2 separate regions of the Homo sapiens genome follow, and region 2 is linked to region 1. Evidence: fine-mapped expression QTL. A gene starts in region 1. The other region holds a variant in brackets. All regions are shown on one strand. Distances are from middle to middle. Region 1 holds the start of INO80B (INO80 complex subunit B). Region 2 overlaps C2orf81 (chromosome 2 open reading frame 81).

Region 1 (5,484 bases):
CGTATTCTACAAATATGAATTGCAAGTGATCCCTCACTGTAACTCCTGGTGATAAAAGAGTATTGCCTTCACACTGTGATAAAATCCATCCTCTTCTTGGAGCTCAGCCTACCCTCTGAAGGACTGTACCCAGCTGATCACAGCCTTAGTCCCTTGATACTTTCTGCCTTTCCTGACCTTCTCAACCCTGTCTGGCCCCTCTGCCTGGCTGTGCAGGACAGGTGCTCACTTGGTTCTGTTCCTGGTTCTTTTCCTCTTATCTACTTACTCTTTCTGGGTGTCTCATCTACTCCCATCACTTGGGGGCCTCCAGTATTACGCTGATGACATCCCCACTCACACTTTCATCCTTGGTTTCTCCTCTCAGCTATTCCACCTCCACCCAGGCATTCCCACAGGCACTTCAAAGTCGCCTTGGGCAAAACTAAATAATTCCCTTCTTAACTTGCTTCTCTTCCTATGTTATCTTCCTTACTGAAAATACCACCTTCCCGCTAAATACTTAGGCTAGAAACCTATGAGTCAGTTATTATTATTTGCTTACTGAAGCATCTACTATGTGCCTGTGCCTGTGCCTGCTGCCACCCTAAGTATCATGAGTTCTTGATTTCCTTTATTCCTTGAAAGAGCCCTCATAGCGGTGGATCCTACTGTATTCCATCTTATAGAGCTGGATTCTCAGGTTCAGAGAGCTTAAATAATTTTAGGCCCAAGGTTGCATAGCTAATAAATGGTGAAACTGGGATTTGATAATAGGCTTGTCTGACTCCAAAATCCCTTTTCATAATCACATACTACATGACTTAATCCTGGATTCCCCAATATAATTGCTCATTGATTCTTGATAATTTTATCACTGAAATGTAAGAGACTTTTCACTGCTGTTACCTTGCTCAGACACTCATATATATTTAGATATATGTATATAGGTGTTATTTTCTAATTATAAACGTGATATATATTGGCTGTAAGAAAATACATTACATACCTAAATAGTGAAAGTTCCTCAACCCCAACTTCTACAGTTAACCAACATTAACAGGTATACATTCCTCAATTTTTTCTATGTATTTGCTAGTATATTATGCTTTTAAAAATCAGATCACATAATCTTGAAATTTACTTTTTTTTTTTTTTCTTTTTTTTGAGACGGAGTCCCGCTCTGTCGACCAGGCTGGAGTGCAGTGGCGCGATCTCGGCTCACTGCGACCTCCACCTCCCGGGTTCAAGCGATTCTCCTGCCTCAGCCTCCCGAGTAGCTGGGACTACAGGCGCGTGCCATCACGCCGGCTAATTTTTTTTTTTTTTTTTGTATTTTTAGTAGAGACGGGGTTTCATCGTATTAGCCAGGATGGGAAATTTACTTTTCTTATTTCGTGTATCAGCACATACAAACCTACCTGTTTTTATGTCTTTTTTAAAATGAGGTAAAATATACACGTTTTATACAAAATTCAAAAGGCACAAGAGGGTATAATCATAAAAAAATAGGTCGCCATCCACCCTTGTTCTCTAGATGCTCATCAGCAAATGACTCTTACCAATTTCCTAGATAGCCTTCTGGGGCGCCTCATTTCTTTTCCAAGCTGCTTAACATCCCACTGTATGGATACACCAATTCATCAGGACACTTAGATTGTTTAAATTCTGTGTCAATCTCATTAATTACTTACAACTCAACTTTTCTTAGCAATATGGTGTTCCGCATTGTACAGCTGCACCGTAATTCATTTATTCATTTCCCTACTTATGAAAATTGAAGTTTAAATACCTAAACTGCATCTGCTCTTAGGGCACTCGTGCTGTTTAACCATTTCGGCCATTTTGTCATCAATATAGTTTATGTATTCCTCCACCCAACTGTGAGTTCCTCAAGGACAGGGGCGGTGTTCATATTCATCTTTGCATCCTCTTAGACTAGCTTCCCGCACTTGGTCTAGTGTATACATTCACCAAACTTGTGTTCAATAATTGACTCATCCGCGCTGAGTTCTGAAAGCTAGCGTGGGGAGGCGGAGCCAGGGGAAAGCCCTGCCCATTTGGGCTGTCCCGACCTCAGAGGGACCGGAACGTTCGTTGGAAGGATCCTCGTTTCTCAGGGACGATTTTGGACGCGAAGCGTGCCCCGCACAAGGATGGTTGCCATGAACCGGAAGTAACTGGTTGTTTTGCTGGCTCCAGTTTTTCCGCGGGGCGGAAAAGGCGTGTCTGCGTGTGTCCCAACCATTTCTAGTCCCCTTTCCTCGCAGGACCTCATGAGTAAGCTGTGGCGGCGTGGGAGCACCTCTGGGGCTATGGAGGCCCCTGAGCCGGGTAAGCGCGAATAGATCAAGCAATTTAGGTCGTGTTAGAAAAGAAGTCCCGTTCTTGCTCCTCGGAGAGTCCAGGGTACTTCGGCCACAGGTGGCAAGGAGAAAGGCGGTGCTGTTGTTATGGTAACAGCGAGTACTGCGGGAAGGGTGGGATCCAGTAGGGGCTTAGGTTATTCAGGGCTTCCCCTGCCACCCTCCGGCCAAACACTGTCGACAGGCTTTCCTTCCACAGGAGAAGCCCTGGAGTTGAGCCTGGCGGGTGCCCATGGCCATGGAGTGCACAAGAAAAAACACAAGAAGCACAAGAAGAAACACAAGAAGAAACACCATCAGGAAGAAGACGCCGGGCCCACGCAGCCGTCCCCTGCCAAGCCTCAGCTCAAACTCAAAATCAAGCTTGGGGGACAAGTCCTGGGGACCAAGAGGTGAGGCCAAGAGGGTCATAGTTTTATAAGGGGAACTTTAGGAGCAGAGATAGTAGTTAGAAGCCGACTGGGCTTTCTAGAAGACCGAATGGACACTGTGACTTCAGGGTCCAGATTTAGGCAGCAAGAGTCTAAGAGGGTGGGGAAAGTTGGGTGTAGCTACGGAGTAGGAGGAGGAGACGCTTGCTCATTTTAAAGAGTAGTGTTGCTTCTCTGCAGTGTTCCTACCTTCACTGTGATCCCAGAGGGGCCTCGCTCACCCTCTCCCCTTATGGTTGTGGATAATGAAGAGGAACCTATGGAAGGAGTCCCCCTTGAGCAGTACCGTGCCTGGCTGGGTGAGGATCTGGAGGTGGGGAAACTGGGTTTCTTATTATACCCGCCTAAAGAAAGAAGGTTGGTTCTGAAATGGGTTAGGATTTTCCATGTCCCAGTATTAACTCAGCCAAATTAGGGTGCCCCATCTGAACAATTCTGTTTTTCTTTCTCCAACTTCCTTCCCAGATGAAGACAGTAATCTCTCTCCCTCTCCACTTCGGGACCTATCAGGAGGGTTAGGGGGTCAGGAGGAAGAGGAGGAACAGAGGTGGCTGGATGCCCTGGAGAAGGGGGAGCTGGATGACAATGGAGACCTCAAGAAGGAGATCAATGAGCGGCTGCTTACTGCTCGACAGGTATGTTGGTTCATTGTTTATTCACTCACCAAATGTATACAGTATTGAGAACTCTCCACGACCCACGCACTTTGCGTGGCATTGGGGATATCGATAGTAGAGAAAAGACAAAGTTTCTGTTCTCCTGGAGCTAGTATTCTAGTGTGTGTGTTGGGGGGCTGGGAAGTAAATAAGTAAATAATTTCAAAAAGCTATATGGTTTATGACAAAAAGAAAAGGGTGATGAAATAGAAAGTGGCGTAAACAAACAGATAGAAATGATGGAAGAGAGACATTAGGGTAGTTAGAGAAGGCTTCTTTGAAGAGATAACATTTGCAATACCAGAAGAGCTTTTGAGCAGAGACCAGCAGGCGCACAGACCTTGAGACTGGAACATGTCTAGCAAAGGAGAAGAAAAAGTGGACAAGCCACTGAAGGGCTGTACGCAGAGAAGTGACATACTTGGTTTACATTTCAATAGATTACTTTGGCATCTTTGTAGAGAATGAATCTTCGTGGAGACAAGAGATAGAAGTATGGAGAACAACTAGGAAGCTGTTGAAGTAATCAGCTGAGAGGCAGTGGTTGCTTTAACCAAGACGAAAGTGGTGGAGATGGAGAAAATCAGATGAATTATGGCTATATTTTGGAAGTAGATACTTGTGGGGAGGGGAATGGAGAGAAAATATATCAAGGCTAAGCCTGGGATTTTGGCTTGAGCAGTTATCCACCTGATACTCTCTATTGAGATAAGATTAAAAATAACAACAGACCTCTGGGAAAGCTGGTACAGTTTTGGTGCACAGGTCAGGCAGGTAACATTACTGATGCTTCTCCCCTTGAGAGATAAGGACCTAAAGCTAAATGTCAGGAGATCTGGGAGGAGGCAGTATTTATGAAGAGGAACCTATGGAAGGTGTCCTGGAGAGGGTGCTCATTAATTAATATCCCGCCTCCGAAGGCCTGCACTGCTCAAGACCCTGCCTTCCATGTCCCTTCTTTCCCCTCCCCCGATCTGGCCGACCTCGCCTCTCCATCTTCCTCCATTTTCAGACAGCACCCCGTCTCTGTCTCTCCCTAGCGAGCTCTGCTCCAGAAGGCGCGGAGTCAACCTTCCCCTATGCTGCCGCTGCCTGTAGCTGAGGGCTGCCCACCTCCCGCCCTCACAGAGGAGATGCTGCTGAAGCGCGAGGAGCGGGCGCGGAAGCGGCGGCTCCAGGCGGCGCGGCGGGCAGAAGAGCACAAGAACCAGACTATCGAGCGCCTCACCAAGACTGCGGCGACCAGTGGGCGGGGAGGCCGGGGGGGCGCACGGGGCGAGCGGCGGGGAGGGCGGGCTGCGGCTCCGGCCCCCATGGTGCGCTACTGCAGCGGAGCACAGGGTTCCACCCTTTCCTTCCCACCTGGCGTCCCCGCCCCCACGGCAGTGTCTCAGCGGCCATCCCCCTCAGGCCCGCCGCCGCGCTGCTCTGTCCCCGGCTGTCCCCATCCGCGCCGCTACGCTTGCTCCCGCACAGGCCAGGCACTCTGTAGTCTTCAGTGCTACCGCATCAACCTGCAGATGCGGCTGGGGGGGCCCGAGGGTCCTGGATCCCCCCTTTTGGCTACGTAAGGCCCTTAACCCGGACTCTGCGCCCCGTCCCATGCCCGCTCTTGAGTATCTTCCCCACCCTATTAAATTACATCCGGTGCTTCGGCTTGTACAGAACTGGGGGAGTGGGATGTTGTGGGCAGACCAGTCTCCGGTATACACGTATTTTGCCCCTGTCGGAGCTTGCGTCGATGCCTGGGGCTTGGAAACCACCGCAAAAAACCAGGCTGCAAACCAGCGGACCGACTTTTGGGACTCCGCCTCTTCCAGCCGGGATTACCTGGCGTGCTTCGGCCTTTGGCGTCATTCCGAAAACATACCGCAAGCCAATCAGCGGCAACCTTGCTCTTCGGGGCGGCTGTTCGTTGGTTGATATGCCAGAGCCTGTTCTGTTGTCTGTATTGGCTATTGCCGCTGTCAGTCAGGGCCGTGGGTCGAACCTTCACCTACTCTTTGTCTGTACAAGCTCTTGTTGTCTGGGTGAGCGGCGGAGGCGCTGCTG
Region 2 (5,221 bases), 44 kb before region 1:
CTTCATTTATCCATCCCACAAATGTTCATTAGGCACCTGGAATATGGCAGACACTAAGCTAGGTGCTAAGGACATAACGGTGCTAGGTTTGGGGGAAAAGAAATATGTGTGCAGAGATACTTGAGAAAATGTTTTTAAAGAAACAAAGCTAGGGAAGGTCATCACTGGAAAACTATTAACAAGCTTAATATTTAAAAAAAAAAAAACCAACTATGTTTCAAACAAAAACAAAATTAAAATCCTAAAGTTAAATCTTAAAAAAAATGTTTAAAATAGTACATAAGTGTTTTAGTCTGTTCTCACACCACTATTAAGATGCTACCTGAGACTGGGTAATTTATAAACAAAAGTGGTTTAATTGACTCACAACTCTGCATGGCTGGGGAGACCTCGGGAAACTTATAATCATGGTGGAAGACAAAGGGGAAGCAAGGCATGTCTTACGTGGTGGCAGAAGAGACAGAGAGCAGGCAGGGGAAAACTGCCACTTTTTATTTATTTTTTATTTTTTATTTTTTTTGAGTCGGAGTCTTGCTCTGTCGCCCAGGCTGGAGTGCAGTGGCGCGATCTCGGCTCACTGCAAGCTCCGCCTCCTGGGTTCACGCCATTCTCCTGCCTCAGCCTCCCGAGTAGCTGGGACTACAAGCGCCCGCCACCACGCCTGGCTAATTTTTTTTTTTGTATTTTTAGTAGAAACGGGGTTTCACCGTGTTAGCCAGGATGGTCTCCATCTCCTGACCTCGTGATCCACCCACCTCGGCCTCCCAAAGTGCTGGGATTACAGGCGTGAGCCACCGCACCAGGTCAAAACTGCCACTTTTAAAACCATCAAATCTTGTGAGATCTCTCTCAATATCACAAGAACAGCACGGGGGAACTGCCCCCATGACCCAATCACTTCCCACCAGGTCCCTCCCTCTACATATGGGGATTACAGCTGGAGATGAGATTTGGGTGGGGACACAGAGCCAAACCATATCAATAAGTATACAAAAAAGTCTGGATTGGCTGGGTGTGGTGGCTGATGCCTGTAATCCCAGCACTTTGGGAGGCCAAGGCGAGAGTTTGAGGCCAAGGTGGGAGGCCTGAGGTCAGGAGTTTGAGACCAGCCTGCCCAACATGGCAAAACCCCGTATCTAGCAAAAATACAAAAAATTAGCCAGGCATGGTGTTGGGCACCTGTAATCCCAGCTACTCGGGAGGGTGAAGCAGGAGAATCGCTTGAACCCAAGAGGCGGAGGTTGCAGTGAGCCGAGATCGCGCCACTGTACTCCAACCTGGTAAACAAGAGCGAAACTCCGTCTCCAAAAAAAAAAAAAAAAAAAAAAAAGTCTGGATTATGTAAAGTATAAAAAATAGTTGTTGTCACATATGAGTTTACAGTATTGTTTTTAAAATGCTAAAACTATTTTGAAATTAAGACTCACTCAGTGGGAGGCCAGCCTGCTGCATGGACTGCTTCCAGCACTGCTCCTTCTCTCCCCAGAAAAAAAAATTAATACAAAATAAAATTTAAAAATTACAAATTACAAATGAGAAACTGAGCAGGTGGTATTTAGCCAAAATTTGCTGGAAAGAAAATTATTCTTAAAGAAGACAATGGACTTTAAATTTGCAGACAGTGACATAGAGACCAAAAGTGTTCTCTGCTCAGTTGGAGAGACTGATCCTCACAGAGCAACATCAGTGCAGTCACAGAGATATGTACAAGGGGGCTAATGGAGCCCCATAAATAGGGGTGACTGGGGGAGGTGAAGGTTGGGGAAAGATCCACAGCAGAGGTGATATCTGTGCTGCGTCTTGGCAGGTGAACTAAAGTTAGCCAGGCCAACATGATGAGAAAGGATATTCCAGATAGAAGGAACCGTATGTGCAAAAACACAGCCAGAGGGTGAAAAAAAACAGACCGTGGTCCAAGAGCTGCAGATTGTCTGGCTGGAGACTAGGAGGTGGGTTAAGGAAGGGCAAAAGGCAAGGCTCTTAGTCAGCAGAGGGTTTTTTTTTTTTTTTTGAGACAGAGTTTCACTCTTGTTGCCCAGGCTGGAGTGCAATGGCGCGGTCTTGGCTCACTGAAACCTCCACCTCTCGGGTTCAAGCAATTCTCCTGCCTCAGCCTCCCGAGTAGCTAGGATTACAGGCATGCACCACCACGCCCAGCTAATTTTGTATTTTTAGTAGAGACGGGGTTTCTCCATGTTGATCAGGCCGGTCTCAAACTCCCAACCTCAGGTGATTTGCCCACCTCAGCCTCTCAAAGTGCTGGGATTACAGGCATGAGCTACTGCACCCAGCCTAGCACACAGCCTTCTAAGTGTAGAGAAGGGGCTTAGAGTTCATCCTACAAAGGAGAGGTTACCTTCAAAGGATTTTAAGCAAGAAAGTGTCATGATGAAAGGTGATTACTCGATGTGGCAGTGGGGAGAATAGATTAGAGAAGATGAGACAGGAAAGAAGTTTAAGAAACTGTCACTAAGCAAGATGCAGATAGTGTCGTGACATGTTACAATTTGTGGAAAGGGACAAAAACAATCATACTTGCAGGTGCATAGAGTTTTGCCTTTGTTCACTTTCCAATTGGGATTAATTTAGTTGACTGCTAAAGGATACGTGAGACTCCGGCAACAGTAGTTGCCTCTCAGGAGGGGAACAGGTGGCTTATGTACCAGAAGAGAAAAATAGTTTAAAAAAAAAAACCCTCTGTATCCTTTTGTACACTTTCAATTTTGTACTTTGGATATGTATTACCTGACCAAAAGAAAAATTGCTTTTCTTTTAAGGAGGCTATCACATTGCAAGGGGATGAGTAATTAAAAAATAATAATAATAATAAAGGGGCTATTATACAATCTAGGAGAAAATGTCAGAGAGAATGTTCCTGCCACCCACTCCCCGAAACTTTCCCTGGAGGAGCCAAACTTTCTCAATCAGAAAGGGCCTCTTCAAAGGACTTAGGCCCAAGGCAGTAATGTATCAACTGTATCATCTGTATGGCCTACACCTCTGGCCGACCCTGAGAACAGAAACTGAGTCTTCTTGCTTTCTCTGTTTCTGGTGCCTAGTGTCCCCCTCAAGAAGCCTTCATTGCAAAAACTACTCTACTGGTCTGGCTAGAACTAGGGGATGGGAGAAGGAGGTCTGGGATCTCATATCCCCTTGCTGATTATATTTTGGGCTGAATGATTCTTCTATCAGCCTTCTAATACTGACTTGTGCCAGCTGGGCTTCCCTGATGTG[T/C]GACACAAAAAGTGTGTTGGGTCACCACTCAGCAAACAGCTGGGTGCCAAGAGGCAAGAGGTGGTCCTGGGAGACAGTTACTAGAATGCCAGGGGTATAGGGAAGAGGGCAGCACAGAAGGTGCCCATCCTTCCTTACCTTGGAGTAGATTTGTGAGCAGAAAGGGCCCAACATAGTTAGTGACAAAGGTGAGATCCAGGCCCCCTGGGGTAAGTGTCTTCGGAATCCTGGGAGGAAATGAAAACACTGGCATTGAGTGATAAAGGGACCACCTTGAGGGAGACAAGGTCTGGGAGGGACATATTACCTTCAGCAGAAATGCCACAGGGGCACATACATGTGAAGATGGGGGCAATGAAGTTTAAGGCTATAACTCAATGTCAGCTTTTTAGGGGAGGGTATGGATTAGTGTTTTGGCAAGATTGCATAGACTAGGCTTTGAGGATACCTGTTTTAGAGTTCCTGAGCTAGAAAGGAGACTGCAGAAACATGTTTGGAGAAGCAAGCCAGGCACATACCACTGACTCCAGCATTGTTTACCAGCAGATGTATCTCAGGATTCTCCTGTAGAAGCCTCCGGGCAAAGCTCCGAATAGAGGTCATGGAGCTAAGGTCCACCTCGCCAAGCAGGAGGCGGTTGCTGTTTGAGGCTGCTTGGATCTCAGCCAGGGCTTGCTGTCCACATTCCCTGCTCTGACAAGTAAGGATCACTTGGGCCCCACACCGAGCTAGGTCCTGGGATACAACCTTCCCGATGCCTGTGGGAGGACAACTTCGGCTGGGTGGTGACTACAGTGAACAAGGGACACTCTAGGGGAGGGACAAGGGTGTTGATAGTGGATGCTCCTCCCTGCCTTCCCTGTGAGAGTTGTTGGAGGCTGAGGCCCATAGTGAGGATTCAGGGTGGGAGGAGCACTCACCACTGTTGGCCCCAGTCACTATGGCTATTTTCCCAGTCAGATCTGTGGAGCAGCACTGGAGGTCCCAGGGATGAGACTTCTGCCAGAGCTGCACATGTAGTTGAAGAAGACCAGAATAAGGAAGACAGAGCCAGCGCCCCAGACCAGGATGCTGAGTGCAGCCCACAGCAACATAGCAGAAACTTCCTGGGCCTGCTGGGGAAATGCTGTAGGAGGAAGTGGGTGCAGGATAAATCTGGGCAGAGTGGAGACTAGCAATGAGGCAGGTGTGGAGCCTAAGATAAAATTTAAGGAGGCACTGACTCTTGAGTTTGTTCAATATACTGTTTGAGTTTGAGAGTTCCTCCTTAACTTCAAAAGTGAAATTTGGATTTGCAGTCTAAGGTGAAGTGACCAAGCTCCAGGGACCAGGGAAGCAAGAAATCAAGTTCTTCATATCTCGAATCACTCTGTGCTTATGCGGGGCCTTCTCCTTCCTCCCCTACTGAAAGGAGACTCGAAGTTCTCTCTACAGAGCCAGACCCGCTGGCAGCCCTTATGTCTACTCCTTTGGGGGACAGGGGTTTCTCTAGAATGCCTCTGCAATGGGGCAGCTTTGGCCCTAATGCAGGGTCTCCTAAGGGTGGCGAGAGGGTTATTTCCTGAACCCTGGTTCTATCTTCTTCTAGGCCTGCAGGATAACTGCTCCCCTTGGGGTTCAGTGAGAGGGTGGACACCCTTGGAAGAAACTGACAAGAGACATCAGACTAGTTCCTAAGGCAACTCAGGTGTTTATTTCTGGCTAGCAGAGGGAGGGACCAGTTACTACTGCCAGAGGCTCAGGGATCAGAGGGAGGCAGCAGGCTTAGAGGAGCGTGACCACACTTTGGGGGCTGAGTTCTTCATTAGCTGTGCTACGGTCACCTGGGCTTTGGGGCACCTGTCTGGATGGGATGTTGCTCAACGGGAGGAAAGGTGCTACCTTCTTTGTCCTCTTGTTCAGGCACACCAGAGCTGAGCAACACCTGGGTGCTCCGGTTCCACATGCTCACACCAGGGGCCAGCTTCAGGGCTTCTGGCAGCAACAC

Evidence for each region. PIP is the estimated chance that this variant, and not a neighbour inherited with it, causes the effect.
Region 2: its variant is the best candidate, but not a certain one, in a credible set for the expression of INO80B in whole blood (TOPMed, PIP 0.78).

Annotation. Positions count from the first base shown.
Region 1 is chr2:74,452,862-74,458,345 of GRCh38, forward strand. INO80B (INO80 complex subunit B) reads left to right here and starts at 2,226. Exons shown (of 5, transcript NM_031288.4): 1 at 2,226-2,313; 2 at 2,545-2,737; 3 at 2,957-3,075; 4 at 3,242-3,411; 5 at 4,473-5,083. The coding sequence starts at 2,256. The coding sequence ends at 5,003. It overlaps INO80B-WBP1 (INO80B-WBP1 readthrough (NMD candidate)), which reads left to right and starts at 2,162. Exons shown (of 8, transcript NR_037849.1): 1 at 2,162-2,313; 2 at 2,545-2,737; 3 at 2,957-3,075; 4 at 3,242-3,411; 5 at 4,473-4,999. RefSeq lists enhancers at 1,740-2,329, 4,380-4,449, 4,948-5,454, 5,080-5,229, 5,455-5,484 and a silencer at 4,590-4,829.
Region 2 is chr2:74,409,276-74,414,496 of GRCh38, forward strand. It overlaps C2orf81 (chromosome 2 open reading frame 81), which reads right to left. Exons shown (of 3, transcript NM_001316764.3): 3 at 4,902-5,221. The coding sequence ends at 5,054. Among named protein-coding and RNA genes, the nearest start is that of C2orf81, 9.7 kb to the right of the region's middle. The variant T/C (reference allele first, on the strand shown) is at 3,235.